Linked DNA regions of Homo sapiens. The protein of the gene in region 5 interacts with the protein of the main gene of each other region in a pairwise test. Each region holds a gene or a part of one and is shown on either strand. Other genes may lie near its edges.

Evidence for each region.
Region 1: the proteins of MAPK8 (region 5) and BMPR2 interact in a two-hybrid assay, tested with the Homo sapiens proteins (one large-scale study listed by BioGRID and IntAct).
Region 2: the proteins of MAPK8 (region 5) and GARS1 interact in a two-hybrid assay, tested with the Homo sapiens proteins (one large-scale study listed by BioGRID and IntAct).
Region 3: the proteins of MAPK8 (region 5) and DUSP8 interact in binary tests that used the Homo sapiens proteins (3 or more experiments, as listed by UniProt).
Region 4: the proteins of MAPK8 (region 5) and GFPT1 interact in a two-hybrid assay, tested with the Homo sapiens proteins (one large-scale study listed by BioGRID and IntAct).
Region 6: the proteins of MAPK8 (region 5) and ZNF605 interact in a two-hybrid assay, tested with the Homo sapiens proteins (one large-scale study listed by BioGRID).
Region 7: the proteins of MAPK8 (region 5) and RPTOR interact in binary tests that used the Homo sapiens proteins (3 or more experiments, as listed by UniProt).

Annotation. Positions count from the first base shown.
Region 1 is NC_000002.12:202,564,664-202,568,632, reverse strand, and holds the end of BMPR2 (bone morphogenetic protein receptor type-2 precursor), read right to left. Parts: 3' UTR 884-3,969; downstream 1-883. UniProt on the Homo sapiens protein: On ligand binding, forms a receptor complex consisting of two type II and two type I transmembrane serine/threonine kinases.
Region 2 is NC_000007.14:30,629,113-30,633,119, forward strand, and holds part of GARS1 (glycine--tRNA ligase isoform 1 precursor), read left to right. Parts: intron 1-2,335; coding exon 2,336-2,429; intron 2,430-3,134; coding exon 3,135-3,325; intron 3,326-4,007. UniProt on the Homo sapiens protein: Catalyzes the ATP-dependent ligation of glycine to the 3'-end of its cognate tRNA, via the formation of an aminoacyl-adenylate intermediate (Gly-AMP).
Region 3 is NC_000011.10:1,569,189-1,573,678, forward strand, and holds the start of DUSP8 (dual specificity protein phosphatase 8), read right to left. Parts: upstream 3,084-4,490; 5' UTR 2,713-3,083; intron 1,765-2,712; exon of another isoform or gene 1-1,764. UniProt on the Homo sapiens protein: Has phosphatase activity with synthetic phosphatase substrates and negatively regulates mitogen-activated protein kinase activity, presumably by catalysing their dephosphorylation.
Region 4 is NC_000002.12:69,335,049-69,339,055, forward strand, and holds part of GFPT1 (glutamine--fructose-6-phosphate aminotransferase [isomerizing] 1), read right to left. Parts: intron 3,518-4,007; coding exon 3,397-3,517; intron 3,008-3,396; coding exon 2,850-3,007; intron 1-2,849.
Region 5 is NC_000010.11:48,435,577-48,440,267, reverse strand, and holds the end of MAPK8 (mitogen-activated protein kinase 8), read right to left. Parts: 3' UTR 908-4,691; downstream 1-907. UniProt on the Homo sapiens protein: Serine/threonine-protein kinase involved in various processes such as cell proliferation, differentiation, migration, transformation and programmed cell death.
Region 6 is NC_000012.12:132,935,660-132,939,666, forward strand, and holds part of ZNF605 (zinc finger protein 605), read right to left. Parts: intron 1-4,007.
Region 7 is NC_000017.11:80,963,738-80,967,260, forward strand, and holds the end of RPTOR (regulatory-associated protein of mTOR), read left to right. Parts: intron 1-524; coding exon 525-593; 3' UTR 594-2,631; downstream 2,632-3,523. UniProt on the Homo sapiens protein: Component of the mechanistic target of rapamycin complex 1 (mTORC1), an evolutionarily conserved central nutrient sensor that stimulates anabolic reactions and macromolecule biosynthesis to promote cellular biomass generation and growth.

The DNA.
Region 1 (3,969 bases), on a different chromosome or scaffold from region 5:
AGGCATGCACCACCACACCCAGCTAATTTTGTATTTTTAGTAGAGACGGGGTTTCTCCATGTTGGTCAAGCTGGTCTCGAACTCCTGACCTCACGTTATCCACCTGCCTCGGCCTCCCAAAGTGCTGGGATTATAGGCGTGAGCCACCACGCCCGGCCAGTTTTATTTTTATTTTTGAGTTTCTCTTGCCACAAGGAGAGCTTGAAAATTGCAGTTCAAAGCAAAACGTAAAATGCGTTACAATCTCACTTGCCAGTTCTGTGACTGGGCAGAGTATTTAATTTCTCTTTCAGTTTCTTCATTTATAAAAGGGGGATAGTAATACATATTATGTAGGATTGTTGTGAGAATTATCAACAATGTATGTAAAATAACTAACACAGTGCCTGGCATATAATACATGGTCAGAAAATAGCAACTATTATACTAAATTTAGTTTTTTTTTTTTTTGAGACGTAGTCTCGCTCTGTCGCCCAGGCTGGAGTGCAGTGGCGCGATCTCGGCTCACTGCAAGCTCCGCCTCCCGGGTTCACGCCATTCTCCTGCCTCAGCCTCCCGAGTAGCTGGGACTACAGGCGCCCGCCACCGCGCCCGGCTAATTTTTTGTATTTTTAGTAGAGACGGGGTTTCACCGTGCTAGCCAGGATGGTCTCGATCTCCTGACCTCGTGATCCACCCACCTCGGCCTCCCAAAGTGCTGGGATTACAGGCGTGAGCCACCACGCCCGGCCTATTTATTTTTTTTTATTTTTTATTTTTTGATGTATCATACTGAGTTATGAAAGTCATATTAGATAGAACATTTACTATTCTAGTGCAAACTCCCTAATTATCATACTAACAATTTCTGGTGACCTCTTAAAATAAAAAAACACAATTACTATTGTCATTAATATGATCTTTAATAAACGGAATAACGCACCATTTTACAGCAAGCCTTTTTAAACCTAAAGAACTGCCTTAAAATCTCCTTCTCCAATGTCTCTGTATCAATACAATCTTTTTATTTAGGTTTATATATATCAAAGCATTTACTTACACTTATTCATAGAAAACTCTTTAGTGGCTTAATGTCAGCTTTCATAGTGGCATCCATAGATAATACAAAAGAAAAGTGATTTGCTTTATTTTATACTCACACTGATCCATCAAACACAACTTATACAGCATAGCAAGGCTTCAGACAGCTTATACAAAAGCAAAATAACTGAAATTATTCATAAAGTCATATATGATAGTCTATCTGTAATGTAAGAGCAAAACACACCAACAAAAGATACCCGTTAACAAGAAAGAGGGTTCTGAGGAAGTGCGAGTATTTTCTAGCCTTTCTTTTTCCGGAAAAGCATCCTCAGAAGTGAATACTCCGTAGCTTATGTTTCTCCTGTCCATTCAGAAAAAGCATGACAGCTACGCATCTCCATGTTTCAGCTACTACAACACCCTAAGAGTTAGTGTATTTTACAATTATCCATGTATCTTTATTTGAAAAATTATCAGCAAAAAACTGAGGATGATTCCAGCTTACATAAACACTGATACAATATAATCTCTATGGAAATGAAATAACAAGGCATACAAAAATTGCTTAAATAAATAAATGTGGCCAGAAAAAGAAAAGCCACAGAAGTCAAGCAATTCAGTGTTAAACTGGGACCTATCTTTGAATTGCATCTTTTAGTAATTTTTTCTTACTGTTAAGCTTCTTTAAAAATATGTTTCCTTTACATACTTACGAGGATTGGTAACAAGGTGAAGAGCCTGAGACAAGAGACTGGTTACAGATAACTTCCTAGGATTTTAAGTATATAGCACATCAATTTAGAGCTTGAACTTGTCTGATTCAAAGAAAAATTCTGTTTGACAATGTGATAAATACAGGTTATTTTCTCAAAACCATCCAAGCTATTACTAAAGTTATAAAATATTTAGTTCACTTTTAGAAGGCTTTATAACGTTAAATTGTCTCTTGAGAAAATCCTATCTGACAGGAACTACTTTACCAAGTTCCCTTATTAAAAAACAAACAAAATGAAACAATTTGTCCCATATCATGTATGGTCATTTGACCAAAGAACAGAAATGTAAGTCGTTTTAAGTCAGTGCTTCAACTCTAAAGGCCTAAATTTGTTGCAACATGTAGCCAATTAGTTGAGTCATTCCCTCTGTTCAGTAATTACAGAACTGGGCAACTTTTTATAATTAATGAAATCTGATATTATATCTATGTGAAAAAGTCAAATAAGATGAAACATTAAATGAACTGTGCAACAAACACTTTAAATATTCAACTGGATCTAATTGCTTACTTGCTAACAATTGAACTTTTTCAGTGTACAAAGGGATGAAAGGGGCCCTGAGTTTTTAAGTAACATGATGTCTGTAGAATGCATCTAAAACATGAAGATGTTTCTGAAATCTAAAGGTATAAATAAAATGGATAAAACCCACATGTTGCCTTTTAAAACTGAAAACCAAATCAAGTTGTAGTTTCAAATACAGTAATTTGCTTAAAAATTCAATCATAAACTGGACACCCTAATGATGTGATTTTGTTCTGAAGATTCCTTCTCTCTTACCCAGATTTTAAAATGGGTTTCAAGTTGTTTTAAAAATGTGTATGTTCACAATGTTTAATAGTAACACTACAAACATCACAGTAATAACAGAATTGGACTTTTAAAGATACGATAGATTTATTTTGAGCCTAGTTTTAATATACAGCATAAATTCTTCTGAAGTACTTTCAAATGTATCTGCCATGAGATAAATTTCTAGGTTTTTCTCTATATGCACACTCAACTTAAATCAGTCACCTAAAAGTTAAATGAAAGTTGTATAGTCCAGTCTATGTTGCAAAATAATAAGTATTTCAAAAGTGGTCTACAAAAATGTCCATAGATAATACCTGATTAATGTAGGGTTTGCTTTTGAAAGTTAATCTTGCATTTAGTGTTTAATATTTCATACAAAAAATATGTAAAAGGTTGTGGCTCAATCATAAAACTAAGCTTGCTGCAATATGTTAAAAAATTTTAATGGCAAAATGATATACAATTCTGTGTGCATGGCTTTTTAGTTATAACTAATGAGAATATAAAATCATAAAATTCCACAATAGAAAATGTTAGATAACACAAAAATTAAGTGCCGATTTGCTGGTGGTCTGATGGTTGAATCCACTTTCAAATAGAAACATCTTAACTCTCGATTCTATCAAACTATCAAACTATTACTTAACTGGAGTAATGAATTTGAATATAAAAGAAAATATAATTCTATATTCTTAAATATAAAGTCATTAAAATAGGACTGAGGAGAAGAGCTTAAGCAATTTTGTCTGAAGAATTGAGACTTAAGTGTTCATTGAGAGGCCTGAAGCATACTGAAGACTAAGAATATTGGGGATGATGACCAACTGCTCTTTTTTGTCCTACTGGGTAAAAGAAAAAAATTTAAAATCAAAGAGGAGGGAGACAGAATAGATATGAAGAAAACTTTCCTGACACAGACTACAAATCAGATAACTGAGGTTTGGAGTAAGTCAGACATAAACTATGAGGTGATTTTTTTTGTTTTTTTTTGAGATGGAGTCTCACTCTGTAGCCCAGGCTGGAGTGCATTGGCGCGATCTCGGCTCACTGCAACAACCTCCGCCTCCCGGGTGCAAACGATTCTCCTGTCTCTGCCTCCCGAGTAGCTGGGACTACAGGCGCGTGCCACCATGCCTGGCTAATTATTTGTATTTTTAGTAGAGATGAGGTTTCATCGTGTTAGCCAGGATGATCTCAGTCCCCTGACCTCGTGATCCACCGTCTCGGCCTCCCAAAGTGCTGGGATTACAGGCGTGAGCCACCGCGCCCAGCCTAACTATGAGGTGATTTAAGGAAAGTAATGGGAAGGTGCACTTAAATGCCCTGTGATTCCCTCTTTTCTTTATGTTAATCTGGAAACTTGTAGAAAAGCCTT
Region 2 (4,007 bases), on a different chromosome or scaffold from region 5:
GTAAAGATGTGAATTCCTAGGTTCTACTCTGGAGATGCTGATTCACTAGGTCTGAGACCCAGGGATCTGGGGTTTTTTTAAAAAAAATAAGAATCCTGAGTGATTTCACTGTGAAAGCTTGACAGATCATAAATGGGATAATAGTTGTCTGGGGTATAGCCTTTCCTAGCATTCAAGTATTGCTGAAGATAGAAGTTTATAAGAAGTCTTCATCAGCTCCCACAAATTTTCTTTTCGGTCTGATGCTTCTGAATCACTGCTCCTTGCCTTCTTCCTCTTTATCTCCTTGCCTTACTTCACCATTTTTACCTCACCTCTGCCTGCAGAAGTTACACTCCTGGGCAGATTACTAGGAAAGCCAACCAGAAGAATGGCTAGAAAGGAGAGGTTGTATATGTCAGGTTAATTGAAAGAAACAGCGTCATCCACTTGGCCATTCTAAAGCTTGAGTGTACGTAATGTTAGACATCAACCGTGTGGTTCTTTCTAGGACATTTAACCTCAAAGAATGAACTAGTGAGTTCTCGGCACCAGTACTTTAGTCTGACACACTATTGTAATACATAGCTAATAAAGTTAGTATGGTACTCTCTGCCCTAAAGTTGCATCTTCATTTCCCAACCTTGAAGGAGCAGCCCTATTCATTCAACAGATTGTAAGAACCTGGGCTAGGCCCCAGGTGCGCAAACATAAGGCTTGGTTCTTTTTGAGAAATGATGACAAACATAACTGCATGTGTTCTTTTTAGATGTCAAGTCTGCTTCAAGCTTTGTCTGCTTATTTTTCTAATAAAAAGGTTTTAGAAAATCTTTTAGCTGTTCCTTTGAATCTAACAATATTAATATAACTAGAGCTTTAATAGAAATTTCGTAAGGGCTAAACAAGAATAAATTAGTCACAGTGTTTTATGAATTGCATGAATTCCCATCATGAAGAGAAATTTGATTAGGCTGTGGGAAGCCAAAAATGTTTCTAAATTATTAGCACCTAGTTCCTCAATCCATTTGCCTATAAATTTGGTATAAAAACATTGCTAGTGAAATTTTAAAAATTATTTTTCTATAAAGGCAGGTCCCTGTTACTCTCTTATATTAAATAGAAATATCACAAGATGGAGGAAGGGAATAGAATTCTGAACCTTCTGTGATGTGAGCAGCCATATTGGTGGAATACAGGCCTTACTTAGAGTGGGATATTCATTGCTTGGCAATAAAGGTTAATTGAACTTTGGGTGAGAGGCTAAACTGGAACCTGTGTCATTCATTATTTTTATGGGACAAATTTATTCTGTGTTTTTGCCTTCAAGTGAACCTTTTGTACAAGTATTAAGAACTGCCTTCAGTTCCCATTTCCAACCTAAAGTGGTTGATTGGTTTGCCTTCCACAGAATATTTTTATTTTCGCCTTTTTTTTTTTTTTTTTTTGGTCTCGCTTTGTTGCTCAGCTGGAGTGCAGTGGCACAATCTCAGCTGACTACAGCCTCAAACTTCTGGGCTCAAGCAATCCTCCTGCTTCAGCCTCCCAAGTAGCTGGGACCACAGGTGCGCCTCACAATGCCCAGCTAATTTTTTAGTTTTTGTAGAGATGGGGTCTTGCCATGTTGCCCTGGCTGGTCTTGAATTCCTGGGGTCAAGCAATTCTTCTGCCTCAGCCTCCCAAAGTGCTGGGATTACAGGCATGAGCCACTGTGTCCAGCCTTATTTTTGCTTTCTTTGATTTCTGAGTTACTCAGAAACTATTTCAGGGCAGTTTAAGAAGGCTGTACTTTTTAGTGTAGGTATATGGAACATCTTTTTTTGTTTTGTACTATTTCTTTTGGACATATGTTTGTGAGCTAATTAAACTTTTCTGTTTCACTTGGTCACTGAGGTTCATAGGTTTTTCTCTTAAAAGACAGAATGGGCTTTGGTTTGGGTCACTGCCACTTGTTTGAATATTTAGGTAGTCTCCACAGAAAGTCTTTTATGTGGAACCAAAAAATTACCGTCTTTTATATACAGTAGCTTTCAGAATGCTTTCACATCATTTGACTTTTTTAGTAACGGGCTTGTGAAGCAAGCAGAGCAGGTGGTAGAGACCTGCTTTTTAGGTGGAGAAACTAAGGTTCAGAAAGAGTTCATGACTTGGCCTAAATTCGGAGCTGAAACCAGGTGTTTCTGATGCTGGTTCTGCTTCTCTTTTGCCATACTGCTTTTCATGTCATGTTTTCTGGCATTTTGGTAATGACGTTATGCTTGAACACTTGCTGAATATTAACCTCTTTTGGTTTGGGATATTAGCATTTAGATATTTACAAATTAACATATTTGGATTTTTTTCTTTTTAAATCATCCAGTTCTTCAGTTTCCCTGCTGTAGTTGCTCCATTCAAATGTTCCGTCCTCCCACTGAGCCAAAACCAGGAGTTCATGCCATTTGTCAAGGAATTATGTAAGCAAATTCAATTGGGTAAACTCCATGGGAACACCATCAAGGAGACTGAATTTTAGGAAATGTATCATTTATTTCAATAAAAATATAGACTGAATAAAGAATATAAATGATTTTATAAAGAGTACATGATTTTAGCCTGTACTCTTATTTCTAAGCGAGAGGATATGCTTGCTCAGATGTTTTATTCTGGCATTTGAGTGAGGCAAGGTAGGACCCAAGAGTCAGATTTAAAAATTATTTACTTCTCATACTGACCTTGGTGCCAAGTTCATCGAGGGAACCTGAGTGGAGTGTAGCAACCATAATGGATCTACAGCCACAGAATCCACAGCCCTGAAAGGAATCCTGGTGGTCATCTGGCACATCCACTTATTTCAGAGCTGGGAAATGGGGAGAGTCCATTGACCTGCTTAGAGCCATAAAAATAGAGGTGGTGGAGTCAGGACTCACCTTCTGGCCTTGGCTCTTGGTCCCATATTTGTTCCCCCTATAGCTGTATCAGATGGAGGTATGAGTGAAGATTTGGATTCCCGCAAGGGATTTATTAAACTTTAGGGATATTTCTTTCTCTTGCAACTCAACTTGTTGCTTTCTTGTCTTGGTCCCATTTATAAGTCTCCTGAGCTTGTAAGACAGTAGTTAGATAACACTGGGCTTAACTCCATTGTTTTATTTTTAATTTACTTTGTTTATTTTGGATAGCGGAAGCCCTGACCAGGCATGGAGTATCTCACAAAGTAGACGATTCCTCTGGGTCAATCGGAAGGCGCTATGCCAGGACTGATGAGATTGGCGTGGCTTTTGGTGTCACCATTGACTTTGACACAGTGAACAAGACCCCCCACACTGCAACTCTGAGGGACCGTGACTCAATGCGGCAGATAAGAGCAGAGGTATCTGGCCTTCTCTTTGGCATTTTTAGCCTTAGAAATGTGTACTGCTTCTTACTGATTTGTGTTGGATTTTGATGTGTTTATGCTCCCTTTCCTTTTTTTTTCTTTTTAATTTTAATGAACGGCTTGTATCAGACAGAGCCCAGATTCTCAAGTCCCCCGGTTTAATTATGAAAATATCCATTAGCACTTCTCTAATATTTTATAAACATTTGTGTTGCTCCAGGCTTATTCTCCAGCAGTTTGCTTTTATACTTGTTTGTTTATTGGGCAAGAGAAATATGATCCTAAGAATTTGTTGCCATAGTTTTATTGGTAGGCTTTGGAGGGTTAGACATTTTAATGTTTTATTTTTACAGACGCGTATACATGTGTATGTATAAGCTTTTCCGTGTTCATATATTCAAAACAGTGAATCATGTTTCAGTAGTTTTGGTCAATAGGAAGGCAGTAATGGAGATGGTAGAAGCACAGAAGGAGAAGGATGAGTGGTAAGGGAAAGGAAAGAGTAGCTGCTTTAATTGACATCTGCCTGCCTAATTTATCACCTTTGAGCACATACATCAAGTGCCTGTTCTGTGCTTAGCTTGATACAGAAGTAATAGGGAAAACAGAAGCAAAAGACTGCTTTTTTTTCTGAAGGAGTTTATAGTCTAATCCAGAAGTCGTGAATTTCTAGCTT
Region 3 (4,490 bases), on a different chromosome or scaffold from region 5:
GATGCCCCCTAGCACAGCCCCATACACCCTTTTCAAAAGTCTTTGAGCCCAGGAGGAAGCAGTTTCCAAGTCCAAAGTCAGAAGAAGGCTCCTCCCAGGCCCACACCTTCCAGGAGGCACCAGGCCGCCACCCTCCCCTGGGACACAGCACGCCTGGCTCCAGTGCTGCGTGCACACTGCCCTCTGTGCGTGCCAGAACACACCTCTTTGCACACCCACTCCACACACAGGGCTGGTGCTCCTTACCCACAATCCACCTGCCCTGTGTGCAAGTACCCACGCGTGAATATGTGCACACGCGTGGGCTGGACATACACTAGAGTACACGCACGTCCTTGCCCTCTGTATGCAGGATCCCCTGAGAACCCCAGGACTCCAGTACCCGAGGGGTCAGCTTCAGACTCCTTACAAACACGAGCTCCCACACCCAGCGTCTCTGTGCAGCACATTCCTGTCCCTGAGCACAGACGGGACCAGGGAGTCCCAGGCCACCCCCAGCTCTCAACTGACAGCATCCTTACCATGTTACCTTCTGCTCAGCACCTAGAAATGGGGACTCACTACCTTCAGAGACAGCTGCCAGGACTGTCAAGCATGGGGGGATGGGACTGTGTCTCCCCCTCACACCTAGGCAGGCTCTTGGAGCTGTCCGGCTCACTGTTACCCAGGGATGCTTCTGGAGGCAGAAATCGTCACACTAAGGAGGCTGAGGAGAGACTGGTGGGTGGCAACTCTGGGAGGCAGGGACCCTGCACTCACACAGGTCAGCTCATCTTCCCTCACTGGGCTCCCCCAGATGCCCTCATCCCTGCCTCCCCTCAGCTCCCTTGGCTAGTGCTGTAGGACCCAAGCTGGCCTACACTCTGCTCCGCTGGCCTGGGGAAGCTGTGGACCTGGGAGAAAGTGGGGTGGGGCGGGGGGCTCCCTCCGATCCCAGGAACGGGGTCCGGGCAGGGCAGGGGATGGGAGGACTTGGCACAAGGGGCCGTGACAGTCGAGTCTCAGAGCCGGACATATCCAGGTTCCCTCCCTTCCCACCAGACCTGTGTCCCTCCTCCTGGTCACTGTGCCACATGCTAAACATCAGGACCAGTGTGGCGCTTCCAAGGTTCACTGCCCTGAGCAACTCCGGCAGAGGGGGCCTCAGCGGGTGCAGTTCTCATGGCCAGAGTCCAACCACCTCTCTCTCACTGTGGGTCTGCCCCTTTCCCTGCCTTCTGCAAGAAGTGACACCTAGGTCTCCCCAGGCCCTAGCTGATGCCCCTTCGAGGCACCTGTCCAGTGGCAGCCTCTAGGCCCTGACTTCAGCCCCAGCCTGAGAAGAGAAGGGTCCTGGAGCAGAGACTGACTCTAAGCGTCTTTCTGCACCTCTGTTAATGGGACTTTATTCCCAGAAGCCTCCCCGAGGACAGAGGATACCAGGGGAATAGAACCTGCCCAGCCACACTCGTGCAGCCCCCGGCTGGCTGCAGCAGGAGGTATTTCAGCGAGACTTCAGGATGAACTTCCAGCTGGGGTCACATGATCTGCCATCCGCATCCAGTGCTTATTAGCAGTGAATGCATGGGACTGTCCTCCTGGTGGAGGGCTGGGGCCTGGGGTGCTACATTCACCCCTGGACCGCCCTAGGTGCAACAGTGTCTCTGGGTGGGCTGTGCCAGAAGGGAGGCAAGGGAGAGTGCCGGGGTTTGGATCTCCCCTCAGACCCCCCGCTGGGGCACAAAAGGAGCTTCCCTGGCCTGCAGCACCCCACCCCCACCCCAAGCTGCACAGCAAGAGCACTGCGGAGCCACGCTACATCCTGCCACCCCCTCCTCCATCCCACAGTGTCCCCGCCCCCCATCACTGCAGCACCAGAGCCCCTATTCCCCTCAGCAGAGGCCGGTACACCCCGCAGCAGGGAGACGGAGGCAGATTCTCCCAGAAGGGGTGACCCTGTTGGGGCTGGGCCTATTGTTGCCCCCTCCCCTCCAGGCCAGACTATTAGGTATCCCCACCTGGTCTGCTCCGCATCCCAGGCTGGGCAGCTGGGCCTAGCGAGGTGGCTGCAGCAGCCTGGCTGTGCCAGCCCCTCCCCCAGCGCCGCGGCTGCCTCTGCAGCAGGCGGAAGGGCGCGGGGGCTTTATCCCTCAGGGGCCGGCTGGGCACCCCGGGATGGGGAGGCAGTGCGGCCTGGACACTGGGGGGATGGATCTGCAGCCCTCCCCCCCGACAGGGGAAGGCCCCTTCCCGGGTGTCCCAGGCCAGAGGCCGTCGCGTCCCTCCCACGGCCGAGGCTCCACACCTCCCGGACCGACTCCGGGCCAGGGTCCGCCTGCTCCGGTTCTGGCCCCCGCGGGGGTGACGTTCGGGACGTCGGGGGCTCGCGCAGATCCGCGCTGGATCTCAGGCGGCCCTGGTGGGTCCTGGATTTTTGTCCCCCCCCCATTCCACACCCAAAGAAGGAGCTGCGGGGAGAAGGGCGGCAACGCGGCGGGCGGGCGTGGGCTGGGCCCGGGTCCGCCGGGCGTTGCGGGGGGCGGGGAAGGGGCCTCCCTGTCCCTGGCGTCCTGGACGGCCGTGGCCGCTCATTCCGGGGCCGCCTCCTCCTCCCGGGCGCCCACCGGGTGCCGCTGCCCCAGCGCCCCCGACGCGGCGCCCTCCGCCCCCCGGCCCGGGCCGGTGAACCCCATCCCCGGCGCCCGCCCCCGCCCCGCCGGCGCCTCCGCTCACCTCGCTCGCGCTCGCCTCGGGGGCGCTCCGGGGACCCGCGCCGCGCTCAGGGCGCCCGCTCGGCCGCGCCGTCCATGGGCCCGGCGGGGGCCCGCGCAGCCGGGGCAGGGGCCGGGGGAGCGCGCGGGCCGCGTCGCCGTCGCCGCCGTCGCCGCCGCCAACGCCGCGGGGAGCGCTCGCTCGGGCCGGGGCGCGCGCACTGCGGGCGGGCACGCGCGCTCGCGGCGCGCATCCCAGCCCCGCGGCTCGGCGGGCGCGGCCGGGAGGTTCCGGCGCGGCTCGGGCTCGGGCTCGGGCTCGGGCTCGGGCGTCCGGCGTCCGGCGGGGCGTCGTGGGGGGAGCCGGCTCGGCCGCCGCGCTCGGCCGCGAGTGACAGGCCCGGGGCGGAGGGCGGGGCCGCCGGCGGGGATGAGGTCATGCCGAGCGAAAAAAGCCCCTGACGTCACCTGCAGCCAATCAGCGCGCGCGGCTCGGGGGCAGGTGACGTCAGCGGAGCCCGGGCTCGGGGTGAAGCTGAGGCGGCTGCCGCGGGGGGGGGGCGGGGTGCAGGGTGCGGGTGGGTCGCGCCGCCGCCGCCTTCCGCCCTCACCCCGGGACCGGCTCTTAAAGGGACCACGCGGCGTCCGGGACCCCGCCTCCAGGAAGCCCTCCCGGCCCCGGGCCCCGCGTCACCCAGGCCCCCCGTCACCCGGGCCCCCGGCCGCGTCGCACAGACCCCGGACGGTCCAGCTGAGCGGCTCCGGGCGCGAAGTCCTCCCCCCGACCCGGACAGGCGCCGGCGCCGCTCCCCCCTTCTCCTGGCCTTTGTTGGCGCTGGGCCGCCGCCGGGGAGCCCTCCCCAGACCCAGGCGCGGCGTTTTACCTGCAGCGGCTGTGCTCGCCCCGCCGCGACCCCCGCAGGACGGAGCCGGATCCCCCTGCACTCGGGCGGACCTGGGACCCTCAGAGGCGAGCCGGCTGCCTCGGGTCACACATCCGCGAACTCCGGGGGCGGGCTCCCCAGGACGCCGCCGACCCCCCACGACCCCCAGCCCTCCCGCTTCCGTGGAAAGCCGCCCCGACGACCCCTGTGCGGGCTGTTGAGGGGCCGCACCCCGCCGACCGCTGTGGGAACACCTCCGCGCGTGCGGCGGGGACGCGGCGAGTCCGGGGCAGGAAGAACGCACGGGTAATTGCACCTTCGGCAGGTGTTGGGCGGGAGCAAGGGGGTCAGACTCGCGCTGCAGGGGGAGGGCGGGGGAGGCCTCGCTGTCCTGGAGGAAGGGGACAAAGACCCCTGCCCAGGAGCCTGGGAGCCTTTGAAAGTAATGATTTTTTGGCGGGGGGGGGTTGTCACGAGACACCCTAGACATTTCTAAAAGGCCCCCTCCCCGCTGCCGGGTGGAGAGGGAGCGTGGGGGGATCCGCCTTCTGCCCCCGAGCCCCCAGCCAGCCTGGGCCCCCCAGGGTCACCCTGGGGCTCTGAAGGGGGCTTCGGCCGCTGGTTGAATGAAGGGCCACAGAAAATGAAGCTGGCGCAACGACCGCAGAACCCTCAGTGGGCACCAGGACCACGGAGCTCAGGGTGCCAATGGTGATGGCTGGGGGTGGGGAGTACTGTGGGCAGCAGGGGATGCTGAGCGGGGTTTGGGGCTCCCCCTTTCCATACTCAGTCTTCCTGCCAGCCTCAGAGCTGAGTACACCGTTGGCGATTAATAAGCGCTTGCAGCTCCCTTCCCTGGCCAGCCTGAGGGGAGCGGCAGTGGCCCGTATGGGGTGGGGGTGGCGGTGGAGTGCGT
Region 4 (4,007 bases), on a different chromosome or scaffold from region 5:
CAAGCTAGAGTGTAGTGGTGTGATCATGGCTCACTGCAGCCTCAAACTCTCAGGCTCAAGGGATCCTCGTGCCTCAGCCTCCTGAGTAGCTGGGACTACACGCACGCACCACCATGCCCCGCTAATTTTTGTATTTTTTATAGAGATAAGGTCTCACTCTGATGCCTCGGCTGGTCTTGAACTCTTAGCCTCAAGTGATCCTCCCAATTCAGCCTCCCAAAGTGCCAGGATAACAGTTGTGAGCCACTGCACCCAGCCTGTATGTAAAATTTTTAAAACTCTGCTGTATATTTGAAAATCATCATCATAAAATGTTGAGGCAAATTAAAGTTCTCATAAACAAAGGAATGAGAAATGTAAAATATATATTTCCCTTGGCAGCTCACAATTCCAGAAACATTTTATGAAAAGATTAAGTCAATGGCATCCATCCAAACAATCCCATATCCCACATACACCACGTTGTAGCCCTTGTTTCACAATCTGTTATAAATAAAGAGCCTCTGGGATTCCAATCCCCCAATCAAATCCTTAAGTGCTACTAAAGGTGGCTGGTCATTTATTCAGCCACAGGATGGAAACCCAAGCACAAACATGTAACACGTTTTAATTACCATATGGAGAAAATTCAAGTTTCAGCACTCTGTAAATTATAGTGTTAGCAATATCGAAATACCCAAGAAATAAAAATCTCACTCAAGAGTTTTTATGCCTGTAACCCCAGCACTTTGGGAGGCCAAAGCAGGCAGATCGTTTGAGCCCAAGAGTTCGAGACTGGCCTAGGCAACATGGTAAAACTCCGTCTCTACAAAAAAATACAAAAATTAGCCAGGCATGGGTAGTGGCCTGTACCTGTAGTCCCAGCTACTCAGGAGGCTAAGGTGGGAGGATCACCTGAGCCTGGGAAGGTCCAGGCTGCAGTAAGCCATGAGCACCACTGCACTCTATGTACTCTGGATGATAAAGAGGAGAGACCCTGTCTCCAAAAAAAAAAAAAAAGGTGGGGGGCCAGGTACAGTGTGGCTCATGCCTGTAATTCCAGCACTTTGGGAGGTTGAGGCAGGCAGATCACTTGAGGTCAGGAGTTCAAGACAAGCCTGGCCAACATGGTGAAACCCCATTGCTATCAAAAATACAAAAATTAGCCAGGCGTGGTGGCAGGTGCCTGTAATCCCAGCTACCTGGGAGGCTGAGGCAGGAGAATCGCTTGAACCCAGGAGGCGGGGGTTGCAGTGAGCTGAGATCACGCCACTGCACTCCAGCCTGGCCAACAGAGTGAGAGTCTGTCTCCAAAAAAAAAAAAAAAAAGAAAAAGAAAAAGAAAAGAAGAATTTTTATATAAGAATCACAAACTTTCTACAAAAAATTCTCTATGAGAATCTTTGAGGGAAAAGAATTCAAATGCAGTTATGTACACATTAACATTGTCTTTCACAATCCTTTAATTAAACTCAAATCCACCAATATCCCAACATCTTATTAGATAATCAGCAAGAAATATCAAACTTAAGTAGAAAAATATTGAGAAAACAAAAATGTGAAATCATAAAAAGTAACACATTGGACAACATAGTGAGACCCCATCTTAAAAAAAAAAAAAAAACTAGCCTGGTGCATCTGCAGTCCCAGCCACTCAGGAAGCTGAGGCAGAGATCACTTGAGCCCATGAGTCTGAGGCTGCAGGGAGCTATGATTCCTGTCACTGCACTCCAGCCCCAGCCTGGGTGACAAAACAAGACCCTGTCTCTAAATAACAACCAAACAAACCTAAAACCCCAAAAAAACACTTGTGGAGGGATAACATCTCTTGTATTTATACAACTTTCTAAGATTTCCTATTTTTATTAGCCACCTAAATTTATGCATATTCCAATTCCAAAGAGCAAAGTAGTCTTACCAGGCCTTCAAAACACAAGACAGTACCTTTAAACCTCCCCAGAGCAATATCTAAAGAGAAAGATATTGTCATACAATACTCATTAAAAAATTTTTTTTAATTGCCAAATTTTAAATTTTTTTTTTTTTTTTTTTTTTTAGATGGACTCTTGCTCTGTCACCCAGACTGGAGTGCAGTGGCACAATCTCGCTTCACTGCAACCTCCACCTCCCAGGTTCAAGTGATTCTCTTGCCTCAGCCTCCCGGGTATGCTGGGATTACAGGCACGTGCTACCACACCTGGCTAATTTTTGTATTTTTAGTAGAGACGGGATTCACCATGTTGGCCAGGCTGGTCTTGAACTCCTGAGCTCAAATGATCCGCCCGCCTCAGCCTCCCAAAGTGCTGGGATTACAGGCGTGAGCCACCATGCCTGGCAGTTGCCAAATTTTATACCAAAGGTGTATTCCTCCTTACAAACTTTCAGAGGTAGTATGTATATTTTTACATTATTTATTAGAAACCATAAATAGGTAAATAAAAATTCCAAAAATGGTTAAAGTGGATGTTTCTAATTTGTTACTTTTCAAATTCCAGACTATACTTCATAAAAGAAGGGGATGTTATATACTTGTTATGTATCCTACTGTGCCTAGCAGGAGGGCAGTAAGCGATAGACAAGGATAGCCAGCAGAGACCTTTTCAAAATGGACTTACATTATATACATAAGTCCCTTTTAAACTCTATCAGGAAGAGGGAGAGAATGACAAGTCTTTTATCTATCTGACCCTAAAGTCCTACAATAATTACAATGATTAGTAAAATGTGTGAGTTCTATAACTGCTAACAAAAATAAAATGTGTGAGTTCTATAACTGCTAACAAAAATAAGATACAGACTAGTCTACAGACTAGTCTGCTTCACTGACACTATGATTAAATAATCATCAGAGAAATGAGTCAAGAATTTACCTTTGTACTGGCCACACCAATCTCAGGACCAGCATTAATATGAACTCCACAATCTGTCTCCCGTGATATGGAACTGCCAACTGTGTTTGTGATCCCCACAGTTAAAGCTCCTCTCTCCTTACAGTAACGAAGACCCATCAAAGTATCTGCTGTCTCACCTGTGTAAAAAGTAGGCCAACCATAACACACAGAACAGTTTTAACATATGCTGTTTCTTAGGAGCAAAAACAAATTGACCACACTTTCAACAATATTACTTGTTTTAAATAAAATACAAAACATCCACTTAATAAATTTATAAAACTTTAAGTAATATGGCTTGTCAGGATCTCTCTTCCTTCTCTGTCATTGAAAATCCAGCTCTTTGAACACAAAAGGTGTTCATTTTTACTAATTCATAAAGAATTATGTAACATTAAAATAAATCTGTATTCGTCAAGTCATCTGCAATGCCAGTTTATCTTTAAATATCAGCTTTTGCCAAGATATGCTAGAATTATTAGAAAGAATAACTTTCCTTCCTTTTAAGTCTTTAAAATTAACACACCTGATTGACTAAGGAAAAAGCAAACATCATCTCGAAAGACTGGTGTGTTTCTGTCCAGGAAGTCACTTGCTAGTTCCACCATCACAGGCAACTCAGTCAGCTCCTCAAGAACTTGACGTGTCTGCAGAGAAAATATGACTTGGTCACAGAACTTTCCTTCAAATACTCTTTCATCGGACTTCTTTGGATTCAATGTATAGTTTTTGCTTTTTCTGATTACAAAAATGACACGTTAGAAAATAAAAACAACCCAGATTAAAATATTTAAAAAAAAAAAATCAAAATCCTACCACTTGAGATAAGCATGGCTAACATTTTACTATCAGTCTCTTTAGACAACTATCTATGTATACATTCCTTTTTTTTTTTTTTTTGAGACGGAGTCTCGCTCTGTCGCCAGGCTGGAGTGCAGTGGTGCCATCTCGGCTCACCGTAACCTCCGCCTCCCGGGTTCAAGCAATTCTCCTGCCTCAGCCTCCTGAGTAGCTGGGACTATAGGCGTGCGCCACCATGCCCAGCTTAGTAGAGATGGGGTTTCACCATGTTGGCCAGGATGGTCTCAATCTCCTGACCTCATGATCTGCTCGCCTCAGCCTCCCAAAGTGCTGGGA
Region 5 (4,691 bases):
AAATGAAGTCCAAAGAAATACTGGTATATAACCATTAACAGCTAAAAAAATTTTTCTTAAACCACAAAATCACTACAAATCAATCTTCACTTAGATCAAGTTAATAGACCTTTTCAGGAACAATACTGAAAAAGAAAAAAAAAAAGTACCTAAATTAACGAGGATGAATTATTCCACTTTACAACTGGTGAAAATGAAAAAAAGTAAAAACAAGTTTATTCCCAACATTCTGACACTTGCTTCTGCTACCGTTTCTCCTGGGAGGCCTCTCTATGACGGTGATGAAACAGCTCAGCTGCCACGCAGCTGATCCAGCAGCAGCGGGCAGCTAAAAGATCAGCCCCTTCCTCTCCGCTCCTCAGAGGAGGGCAGTGTGAGTTCAGGTGAGGGCAGACAGCACGGTACAAAGGTCATTTGGAGCAGGAACTGTGCAAGACGGAGTGGCGTCATTACAGTGGCTGGGAAGGTACTGCAGGGACCCTGTATTCCCACACAGCAGCAGACCCAACGTAGGCAAAGAGGAAATAAGCATGGCAAAAGTTGGAAACAGTCAAAGCTAAAACCTCTTGCTTGTTTTGAAACAGACCCCAATTTTAAGTACTTATTTTTGCCAAGTGGTCACGATGGCTGTTCTCTCATATGTCTACCAAGAACTAGGTTAAGGGCATTGAAGCAAAGTTCCTTTTTTAGATAAAGTTTATCCAGCAATTTCAAACACCAGAAATCCAAGACCAGATCAACCAGATAATCAGCGTGATCATTTAGGCTCTTTACAATCTGTACAAAATCCAAATCTAAGAAACCGGCCCTAGCAAGACCCCTTTTATCCCAATCCACGGACAATCCTAAAATTGCCAAGAAAAACTTTACCACAAACAGATTTTGTTTTCAATGAAAAAACTCTTAATTTCATAATTTTCATACCACTTTTTTCTTTTTTATTTAAAATATTATAACCAATTGACATACTAGATAACATTGTTTACATTCCAGTGGTGCATGTTTAATGACTAGGGCATGAATGATGAAAAACCACAATAATGATCTCAGCATTCCCTAAAAAGTGCCCCATTTTGTTTTGTCTAGAGGAAAGGAGAGGGAACGGAACACAGGGAAGGAGAGGAATGGAGGAGGAATGACATCGCAGAGGGAGAAAAGCAAATGTCAGCTATCATACTCAGGTTTCCAGGTGTGACACCCTGCTGACCAGGATAAACTGTAATGAGAAAATAGATGTCACAGTCCAGGGAGACACGTAATTCAGTCTAACTTCATTATTCAGCTAAAAGATTAACAGCTTCTCAAAAATATACCAAATATTGGGCCTACAAAAGTAATTTATTTCTTCGTAAAATTTTTACTAAGATTTACTCCTTTTGTAAAATGTAAATGGACCGATATCACGAGCAGGTTTCTACTTACAAAAACAGTAATAATGTCAACGAGCACAATTTTGCAAGACATACAGTCAAAGATTTTACACGTGTCTCTTACTGATGTAAGGTATATACTTTACATACTTACTGGTATTGTGTCAACATTGGCTAGAAAGTATTTAACACACATTTATAATTCACTCAGTAAAGATCTAACAGGGCAACAGCTTACTTGGGAAAGCATAGAAAATTAGTGTGAGGTAGTTCAATAAAAACCTAGTTTAATTTGTAAGTCATTATGAGAATAGAACATTGTGCAAAATTAATCCACAGGTAATATTTCTCAAAAGTTTCAGTAACGAAGAGAATCTAAACTAGAAATGGCCAGAAAGTGTTACTGTTACTAGACTCTCCTTAAGAGCACTTAACGAAGAGCAGTCAGTTTGAAATTAGGACTTCTGTTTTCCTTACGAGTTTTCTAATCGTACCCCAAACTATACATTTCTGCTTCAATGCCCTTTACCTCTTCATCTTTCTTGCTATTAAGGAAAAATTAGTTTCCTTTGATTCCGTAAAAACCTAAGAGAGATCAGTAGAAACACAATGCACACAAAAATGCAACAGGATACGGAGAGGCAACATTTAAGAGGGCTGCTAATGACAGAATGGTGTTTGGTTTACCTACTGGTAAGAGAAGTTTACTGGTGTCATGGGGCTTCATGCATCCACTCTATAGCTAATGTGTAACTAATGAACAACACTCACAAACTACAACAGTATTTCTGAAAATATTCTATGTTCTAACCTCAAAATGTTGTGCAGGCGAATGCCTAGGCAACACTGAATAGTTAAGTCTTCATATGTTTAGCAGATACTGGCCAATAGTGTAAACCAAGTCTTATCTGTAACCAAGGAAAGAGCTTCACTTTCCTGCTGATGATTTCACTATCAGACACTGATGTCCTCTTCCCTCCATCTTTTAGACAACACAGCAGGATTAGCATAGAACAGAACAATGACAAGGCTGGCAGGATGCTTCTTTGCACACCATCAAGCTTCTTTGGATTGTTAAGGGGGTTGTGTGTAGGCTTCTGATTTAAGAGGCTGGTGTTTCTCTTAGAAGTCTGGCATGAACACACTGTGCCTTTACCAACTCGGAAGAGTGCACGTCAGGAACAATTAGCAGCCAAAGGTGCATGACACTGAAAACTGTTCAGCAAACACTATGACAGAGTTGAGATGCTCTATCTGCGTATAGTATAACTAAGTGATCCCAACAACACAATGGTTTTACAAATGGCCAGTATATATTAGAGGGAAGAGAATAGTAACCAGGAAGACATTGGTACAGAATTAGCATCTCTTTCTGAATCTATGAAGATAATAAAAATCTTGGTCAAAATAACTTTCTGATAGTAAGACAGTGAGTATATTAAGTATATAAAATTGAAAAATCAAAATTATAGAATAAGAAAGGTGGTTTCATACAAGTACTACCTGATAGAAATGTTATTTGTAACTTCTCTTCAAAAAAAAAATGTTTAAGATGCTTAAAGGATTCCAAAATAAAAAGAACCAACATATATTTAGCTTAACAAATTTAAGACGAAAACTGTATTTGGATGTAGTAATTTAAAACCTAGGGCATGCAACATTTAACAAAGAGACCTTGTTTTTAGGATATAATTTGTTAAGTATTTTAGTTTACACTAAGTAATGAGAGTTTGTTTTCTTTGAATTGAACTGAACATGATGGTTGGCAAGTGGCAGCTGGCATTTACAATAAATGATACAGACACACACCTGGTTTTCCTTACTTAACCAAAATCTGTATCAATAGAGATGGCTTATCAGCAATCAAACATAAAATATGAGAACCTTCTGAAAGCATGTCTGCTGTGAAAGTGCAACAGTGACATAATCTATGCTACAGAAAATACAGCTAATTGTGAAATTAATATAAACACACTCATTCTCAAATTTCTGCTGAAATTGTGAATCCAATATTTTCTGTCTACAATTCAAGAAGTGTCTTAGAACTCTAATTTGCCTAATCAAATTAATGCACCTTGTTGTATTAGAAAAGGGACTGATAAAAAGGCTGGGAAGCTGGAAATCATGACTCTAAGCCATCGAAAACAAACTTGCTACTTCAAAGTATATAAAAAAGCTAATGTATTTTAATCTTAAATATTGCACATTAACAGTGATGTAAAATATCTCACTCAAAAATAATTTTGCACTAAATATATGAATAAAATGCCAAGCAAATTTTCAGACATTGCATGTTGAGCCGCACCTGTTCTTGCTCCTGTTGGTCACAAATTCCAAGGGGCTTTCTGCCTAGAACCTTGTTGCTTATGTGAGTATGCATTTCCTAGTTCATTACATGAAATCCCTCTTGTTCCAGAGATAATTTAAAAGGTGCCTGGGTCTATTACAGACAACGTATTTCAGAAATAACGAGACTTCAAAGACATTTTACTTAGGAAAAGTTCAGTAATAGAGAAATAATTCTACAGATAGAAAATGTAAACAGTTAACATACACTTGTCAGGAGCAGCACCATTCTTAACACTACTCGACATCCACATTGCGTGTTATGTTGAAAATCAGGTATAAAAAAATAAAAGACTTAGACTAAATAACCACCATTTATGCCTGCTCTGCTCAATGTGAAGAAACAGTCCTTAGAAAATGATATCCTATATATGGCTGTGTGCTACTATTTTCAGATGAACGGTATATTGCTCATTTGATACATCACCTACACAAATCTAGGTAGGGTTTGGAACCTCCCAATAGCTCGTATAAATGATTATGCTACAAGTAGAATCAAATGAAACACCAGAACAACTGGTGCTCAACTGACAGACACTCCAAGTAATAGGAAACAGGAAAGGTCCAAGGACCCGAAGCTGCAGGAAAGGGAAAGACCAGACTCTAGAACATTGCTGGGACCTACAGCCTGAGTAGATTAACTCAGTGTATACAAAAACAGGCTCATAGCTAGTAGAAGTGAACCATCTGTTTATTTGCATTGAAATGTATTATTCATGAAGTATCCTCTTGCCTTTATGTGATCATAAACTTTGAGCATGCCACAAATTTGTAGAATACACCATATTCTTTTTACTTATTTTTGTTGGGTAGGGTGGGGACATAAGGTGGTGGTAGACGCCCAGCATCTTCAAAGACATGCTCTGAGTTATTCTGCCATTTAGATGACGGGGCTTTTGCCAAAATTAAGTAGGATTGCCTACCAATTCTTGTAACTAAATTAGGATTGGCAAGTAGCAAATATTGGAGGTCTCC
Region 6 (4,007 bases), on a different chromosome or scaffold from region 5:
AGGCAGGTGGATCACGAGGTAAGGAGATCGAGACCATCCTGGCTAACATGGTGAAACCCCATCTCTACTAAAAATACAAAAAAATTAGCCGGGCATGGTGGTGGGCGCCTGTAGTCCCAGCTACTCGGGAGGCTGAGGCAGGAGAATGGCGTGAACCCGGGAGGCGGAGGTTGCAATGAGCAGAGATCGTACCACTGGACTCCAGCCTGGGTGACAGAGTGAGACTCTGTCTTAAAAAAAAAAAAAAAAAAATTAGCCGGGCGTGGTGGTGGGTGCCTGTAGTCCCAGCTACTCGGGAGGCTGAGGCAGGAGAATGGCGTGAACCCAGGAGGTGGAGCTTGCAGTGAGCCGAGATGGCGCTACTGCACTCCAGCCTGGGCGACAGAGCAAGACTCCATCTCAAAAAAAACCAAAAAAAAACAAACAGGAGTGGTATAAAAGACTTAGGATATTTGAACTGTCAGCACAGAATATAAAATAAATATATTTAATATATTCAAAGAAATGAGAGGTTAATGAAAGTACGAAAAATAATCAGAAGACTATAAAAATGAATAAGCAGATTTGAAAAAAATGAAATATAACTTCTAGAGATAAAATGCATAATAAGTAAAGTTAAGAAGTCAATGGAAGGGCTTAAGAGTAGATTAGGAAAAGATAAAGAGAGAATAAGTGAATTGGAAGATAGACCAGAAGAAATAATAAAGCAAAAGCTCAGAAATGGAAAATATAAAGCAACCCCAGCTACATGCTGCCTACGAAAGAGGCACATTTATATTCAAAATAGTTTAAACATAAAAGGACTCACATTACTTGATTTCAAGACTTCCTATGCAACCACAGTAATTAAGGCAGGATGGCATTTGTGAAAGGATAAAAACACAAGTTAATGGAACAGAACACAGAACTCAAAAATAAGCCCCTACAAATATACTCAATTGTTTCACAAAAGTACAAAAAGCAATTCTACAGTCTTTGTGACAAATAATGTCTCAACAATTTTATACTCATAAGCAAAAGGGATCTCAACACATACCTCACACCTTATATCAAAACTAACTCAAAATGGATCACAGACCTAAACATAAAAAACTATAAAACTTTTAGAAGAAAACCAAAGAAAACCTGTGTGACTTTGGGTTTGGCAATGAGTTAGATACAACACCAAAAGCCTGATCAATTTAAGAAAAAAATTTGATAAATTGGACTTTTTCAAAATTAAGAACTTTTGCTCTGTGAAAGACAATGTTAAGAGAAAGAGAAGGCACGGCACAGACTAAGAGAAAATTATTTGCAAATTACATACTTGCTAAAGCACTCATATCCAGGATATAAAGAACTCTTACTAAGAAAATAACCTCATTTTAAAAATTAACAAGATATCTTGACATTTCACCAAAGAAAATATATGGAAGGTGGCTGGGCGCGGTGGCTCACGCCTGTAATCCCAGCATTTTGGGAGGCCGAGGCAGGCGGATCACCTGAGGTCAGGAGTTCAAGACCAGCCTGGCCAACATGGTGAAACCCCATTTCTACTAAAAATACAAAAATTAGCCAGGCATGGTGACACGCACCTGTAATCCTACCTACTGGGAAGGCTAAGGGAGGATAATTGCTTGAACCCAGGAGGCAGAGGTTGCAGTGAGCCGAGATGGTGCCATTGCACTCCAGCCTGGGCGACAAGAATGAAACTCTGTCTCAAAAAAAAAAAAAAAAAAAAAGAAAATGTATGGATGGAAAGTAAATATATGAAAAGATGTTCAATATATCTGTCAAAAGGTGAATGCAAATTAAAACTATAATGAAAAACTACTATGTACTTATTAGAAGGCTAAAACTAAACACACACACACACAGACACACACACACACACACACCCCTGACAAATATCTGTGAGGACTCAGAGCAAGAGCAACTGTCATTCATTGTGGTGGGAATGTAAAATGTACAGCAGCTTTTGAAAACATTTTGGCAGTTTCTTATAAAGTTGAACACAGACTTACCACACAACGCAGCAATTCCACTCCTAGGTGTTTACTCAAGTAGTGAACTGAAAACTTACATTCACCTGAAAATTTATATTCAAACCTATATGCAGATGAATGCTTTATTCAAAACTGCTAAAAAGTGGAACAATTAAGATGTCCTTCAATAAGTGAATGGATAGAGACTGTGGCCCATCCATACATGGGATCATATTCAAGGGAATCACACGCCAAGAAAAAGGAAGAAACTACCGATAAGATATGAATGAATCTCAAAGGTATGCTAAGTGAGAAAAGCCACTGTCAAAAGGTCACATATGTGATCCCATTTATTTATTTATTTATTATTTATTTGAGAGGGAGTCTCGCTCTGTCGCCCAGGCTGGAGTGCAGTGGCGCGATCTCGGCTCATGGCAAGCCCCGCCTCCTGGGTTCACGCCATTCTCCTGCCTCAGCCTCCCAAGTAGCTGGGACTACAGGCGCCTGCCACTACGCCCGGCTAACTTTTTGTATTTTTAGTAGAGACGGGGTTTCACCCTGTTAGCCTGGATGATCTCAATCTCCTGACCTTGTGATCCACCTGCCTCGGCCTCCCAAAGTGCTGGGATTACAGGCAAGAGCCACTGTGCCAGGCCGATCCCATTTATTTTTTTATTTTTATTTTTTATTTTTTTGAGACAGAATCTCACTCTGTTGCCCAGGCTGGGGTGAAGTGGCACGATCTCGACTCACTGCAACCTCTGCCTCCTGGGTTCTAGCGATTCTCCTGCCTCAGCCTCCCGAGTAGCTGGGATTACAGGCACACGCCACCACACCCTGCTAATTTTTGTATTTTTAGTAGTGACGGGGTTTCTACATGTTGGTCAGGCTGGTCTCGAACTCCCGACCTCAGGTGATTTGCCCGCCTCAGCCTCCCGAAGTGCTGGTGAGAGGTGACAGCGTGCTGGCAGTCCTCAGAGCCCTCGCTTGTTCTCGGCACCTCCCCTGCCTGGGCTCCCACTTTGGTGGCATTTGAGGAGCCCTTCAGTCCCCCACTGCACTGTGGGAGCCCCTTTCTGGGCTGGCCAAGGCTGGAGCCCACTCCCTCAGCTTGCAGGGAGGTGTGGAGGGAGAGGCACGAGCGGGAACCGGGGCTGTGTGCGGCGCTTGCGGGCCAGCTGGAGTTCCGGGTGGGCGTGGGCTTGGTGGGCGCCGCACTCGGAGCAGCCAGCCAGCCCTGCTGGCCCCGGGCAATGGGGGACTTAGCACCCGGGCCAGTGGCTGCGGAGGGTGTACTGGGTCCCCCAGCAGTGCTGGCCCACCGGCGCTGCGCTCGATTTCTCACCGAGCCTTAGCTGCCTCCCCGCGGGGCAGGGCTGGGCACCTGCAGCCCACCATGCCTGAGCCTCCCACCCACTCCATGGGCTCCCATGCGGCCCCAGCCTCCCTGACGAGCACCACCCCCTGCTCCACGGCGCCCAGTCCCATCGACCACCCAAGGGCTGAGGAATGCGAGCGCACAGCGCAGGACTGGCAGGCAGCTCCACCTGCAGCCCCGGTGCGGGATCCACTAGGTGAAGCCAGCTGGGCTCCTGAGTCTGGTGGGGACGTGGAGAGTCTTTATATCTAGCTCAGGGATTGTAAATACACCAATCAGCACCCTGTGTTTAGCTCAAGGTTTGTGAGTGCACCAATCAACACTCTGTATCTAGCTGCTGGTGAGGACATGGAGAACCTTTATGTCTAGCTCAAGGATTGTAAATACACCAATCGGCACTCTGTATCTAGCTCAAGGTTTGTAAACACACCAATCAGCACCCTGTGTTTTGCTCAAGGTTTGTGAATGCACCAATTGACACTCTGTATCTAGCTGCTCTGGTGGGGCCTTGGAGAACCTGTGTGTGGAAACTCTGTATCTAACTAATCTGATGGGGACGTGGAGAACCTTTGTATCTAGCTCAGGGATTGTAAACGCACCAATCAGCGCCCTGACAAAACAGGCCACTCGGCTCTACCAATCAGCAGGATGTGGGTGGGGCCAGA
Region 7 (3,523 bases), on a different chromosome or scaffold from region 5:
CCCGTCCCCTCTGCGGCCCTCACCCCGTCCCCTCTGCGGCCCTCACCCCGTCCCCTCTGCGGCCCTCACCCCGTCCGCTGTGCGGCCGAGTCCTCACCCTGTCCCCTGTGCGGCCGGGCCCCACCTGCACGGCTCTCTGGCCTTGGTTGCAGCCTCCCCACGTGGCTTCAGGCCGTTGTTTTTAGATTAGGATTCTGCCCACCTGCCGCCTTGTGTTGTGAGGCTCCAGGCATGTAGCTCTGCTGACACGTGTGACATTGGATCCCAGAGCTGCCCCGTGGGGCAGTCCTGAAAAAACCACGCAGGGCCCGGGGCAGCGCCACGCCCCTCACGGAGTGCACCATGCATGGGCCCTGCAGAGGACTGGTGGGACCGGCCCGGCATTTCCGGGCCTGAGGTGGGCGTGGGGGTTCCTGAGACCCCGGCAGGAGCTGCCTAAGGATGCGGGTTGGCCTGCGCCCCCCCGCCCCCCGCAGTGTCTGCCCGCACCTGAACCCCTGCTCACCCCTTCTCTCTCCTTGCAGCCTCACCTGGCCGTGGGAAGCAACGACTACTACATCTCCGTGTACTCGGTGGAGAAGCGTGTCAGATAGCGGCGTGACCCGGGCCCACCAGGCCACGGCCGCCTGCTGTACATAGTGAAGCTGTCACTCGCCGGGGCACGGGGCGTCGGCTGCTGCGGCCCCGCAGTGTGAACGTTGGCTGCTGCCTTAGCTGCTGATGACGGCAGGAGGGCCCTGCTACTCGCTTTTGTCTGTCTTCGCTGTCGTGTCTGGAATGTCAGGGAAGGGGAGGGCTCGGGTTGACGGTGGCTTCCCACTGAGCACCAGCATCCAGGTGCACCCCCGCGGCCACGGCGCCTCTGTCCCTCTCCTGTTCTGTGTTTCTCTGAGACGCTGAAAGGGGAAACACCTCACTTTATTTCCATGTAATCAGAGCATTAGCTGCAGAAAAACCCCCCGACAGAGCCCTGGCGGAGAGGCAGGCGCTGGGGCTCCTACGGGTCCCTGGGGCAGCTGTCCCCATCAGGCCAAGAGCGAGCGAGAGGCGCTGCCCCAGCCAGGCCCACCACCTCTCACAGTCAGTGCACGCAAGCAGGGACATTTCCTAGCCAGCTGGGGGACACTGGAAATTCGGGAAACCAAGAGAGAGGAAGAAGGAGACGCCCCTCCAACTGGCGGGTGTGAAGGAAGCCGCCCAGGGGTCCGGGCTGTCCTTGGCCGCTGGCAGCATCACTGAGCAGGAAGCGCACAGCCCACCCTCCCCGCACCTCCAGGTCTCTGGACTCCAGTTTTGGCCCCTCTCACACAGAGCTGTCAGCAGGGGCCGCTGTGGCGGTGCACAGGGGAGGCAGGTCCTTGGCGAGGTAGCCCCTGCCTTAATCCACGGGGCTCCTTTCCCTCCGAAGGGCTGCTCTTCCCCACAGGCGCGGGGACAGCAGCCCGACCTGTGGTCTCCATGCCTGTGCCCTCACACAGGTGTAGCACACGCATGTGCAGATGGCACCACGGCCGGCACCTGGGGGCACACACATGCAGGCGGCGTGGTCTCCCTGCTCTGTCCCCACACGTTCCTCACATACAGGCAAGAGGCACTGCCGGGTCCCGGACGGCTCCGGGTGACACCAGCCCCGTCTCCAGCCTTGAGCCGCCCATGCTGATGCGACCTCGGCTGACAGCTGGGCCTGTGGTGCAGACAGGAGCTGTGTGGACAGTCCCGCCCAGGAGGGGCCGCAGGGCGTGTATGAGCAGTTTTGCAAACAGAACACAACCACAATGATGGTATTTTGAAAAGTGTTCTTTCCGTGTTCGTCGGGAATCAGGATTATTGAGAGGTGAAGGAGCCAGGTGGCTTCATTCTGGCGGTGAGAGGCCCACGACCACGGGAGTGAGAGCTGGTGTGGCGAGGCCCGGCTCTCCTGCGGTGTGGCTGGTGGCCTGCCGTGGCCAAGAGCATCTTCTGGGTGGATGGAACCCTGCCTGGTCACATTTGGCCAGAGACACACCTGGCCCTCAGGGGGCTGAGCTGGAGACTGAGCTGGGGCTGGCCGGGACGTGACAAGGCAGGACAGAGGCGGCCCCTCCGCTGCTCCTTTTTGGAATGCGAGCTCCCACCAGAAGAAGGTTCCGGCACGAATCCCATCCCCACGTCTGGGCCGAGAAAGCAGCCCGGGTCCGGAAGGTGTAGAGAGTCCCGGCCTCACTCAGCTCACAGGGCGTGCCAGGCGGCAACACCAGAATCTTCCAGAAGCCCAGCTCCACCCGCACACGCAGCTTCCCATCCAGTCCTTCAACTCAATTCTTACCCAACACGCGTTTCTGTTTGTTTTGAGACAAAATCACCACCTGTCAAAAGGCAGGTGGCTCCAGAGGGGTCAAGACCCCCCCCCGCCCCCGCTCCACCCTGGAGCCCACCCCCATGGGCACCGCGTGCCGCCTGCACGTGGGCTGTCTTCACAGGTCTGATGTGAAAATTCAATCACGACGTTAACCGGCTCGAGAGAGCGCCGGCCTAGAGGCTCATTATCTATTTATTTTACCAAACGCGAATTGAGACGGACTTTGACAAAACACGAAATGGTAATGTGAAGCTAAGAGCAGAGAGTGACCAACAGTAAACAACACGCGCAGACTCCGCGGCTGGCGGCTGTGTCTTTAAGGAAACTGCCCACCCCACCTCAGGGGGGCATCGGTCAGAGCAGAGCTCTGGGGGGTGGGGGGACGTTGCCCGGGTCCCCCCTGCTGTCCCCAGGGCCACCAGCAGCTCTGCGTCCCGGGTGCTCTCCAGGCAGGCACTGTGGCCACAGGGGGCCTGGCACGTCGAGTGTGCAAAGGTCTCGGTCCTTTTCTCCCAGGCAGTGCCCCCAGCCCTGTGGCGCAGACCCCACATCAGGGAGCGTACTGTGTGGCAAGAGCCATCTTGTGACGTAGGCCAGACACGTGTCTTTCTCTTTAAAATGACGGTTATCCTCTCACGGTTAGAGGCCCCATTCAAGTCTGCATTGAAATCTGGGCCACGTCAGAGTTCCTGGGGGAGAAGCCGCTTCCCCGCTCCTCCCCACTTCTGGAGGCCCCCACTCTCCTTGGCTCGTGGCCCCTTCCTCCAGTTCAGGGCCTCTGACCCACGCCCACCGTCACCACTTCTCATGCAGGCCAGAAGTGTTTCCAGGCCTAGGGGCCGTACCCACCTCGGGCTGTGTGGGTCCTTAGCCCTAATCACATCTGCACATCCCTCTGGCCAACTCTTTTTGGGTTTGCTTTTTGTTTTGAGATGGAATCGCACGCTGTCACCCAGGCTGGAGTGCAGTGGCACGATCTTGGCTCACCTCAACCTCCACCTCCTGGGTTCAAGCGATTCTCCTGTCTCAGCCTCTCAAGTAACTGGGATTACAGGTCTGTACCACCACACCCAGCTAATTTTTATATTTTTGGTGGAGACGGGGTTTCGCCATGTTGGCCAGGCTGGTTTCGAACTTTTGACCTCAGGTGATCCACCTGCCTCAGCCTCCCAGCGTGAGCCACCA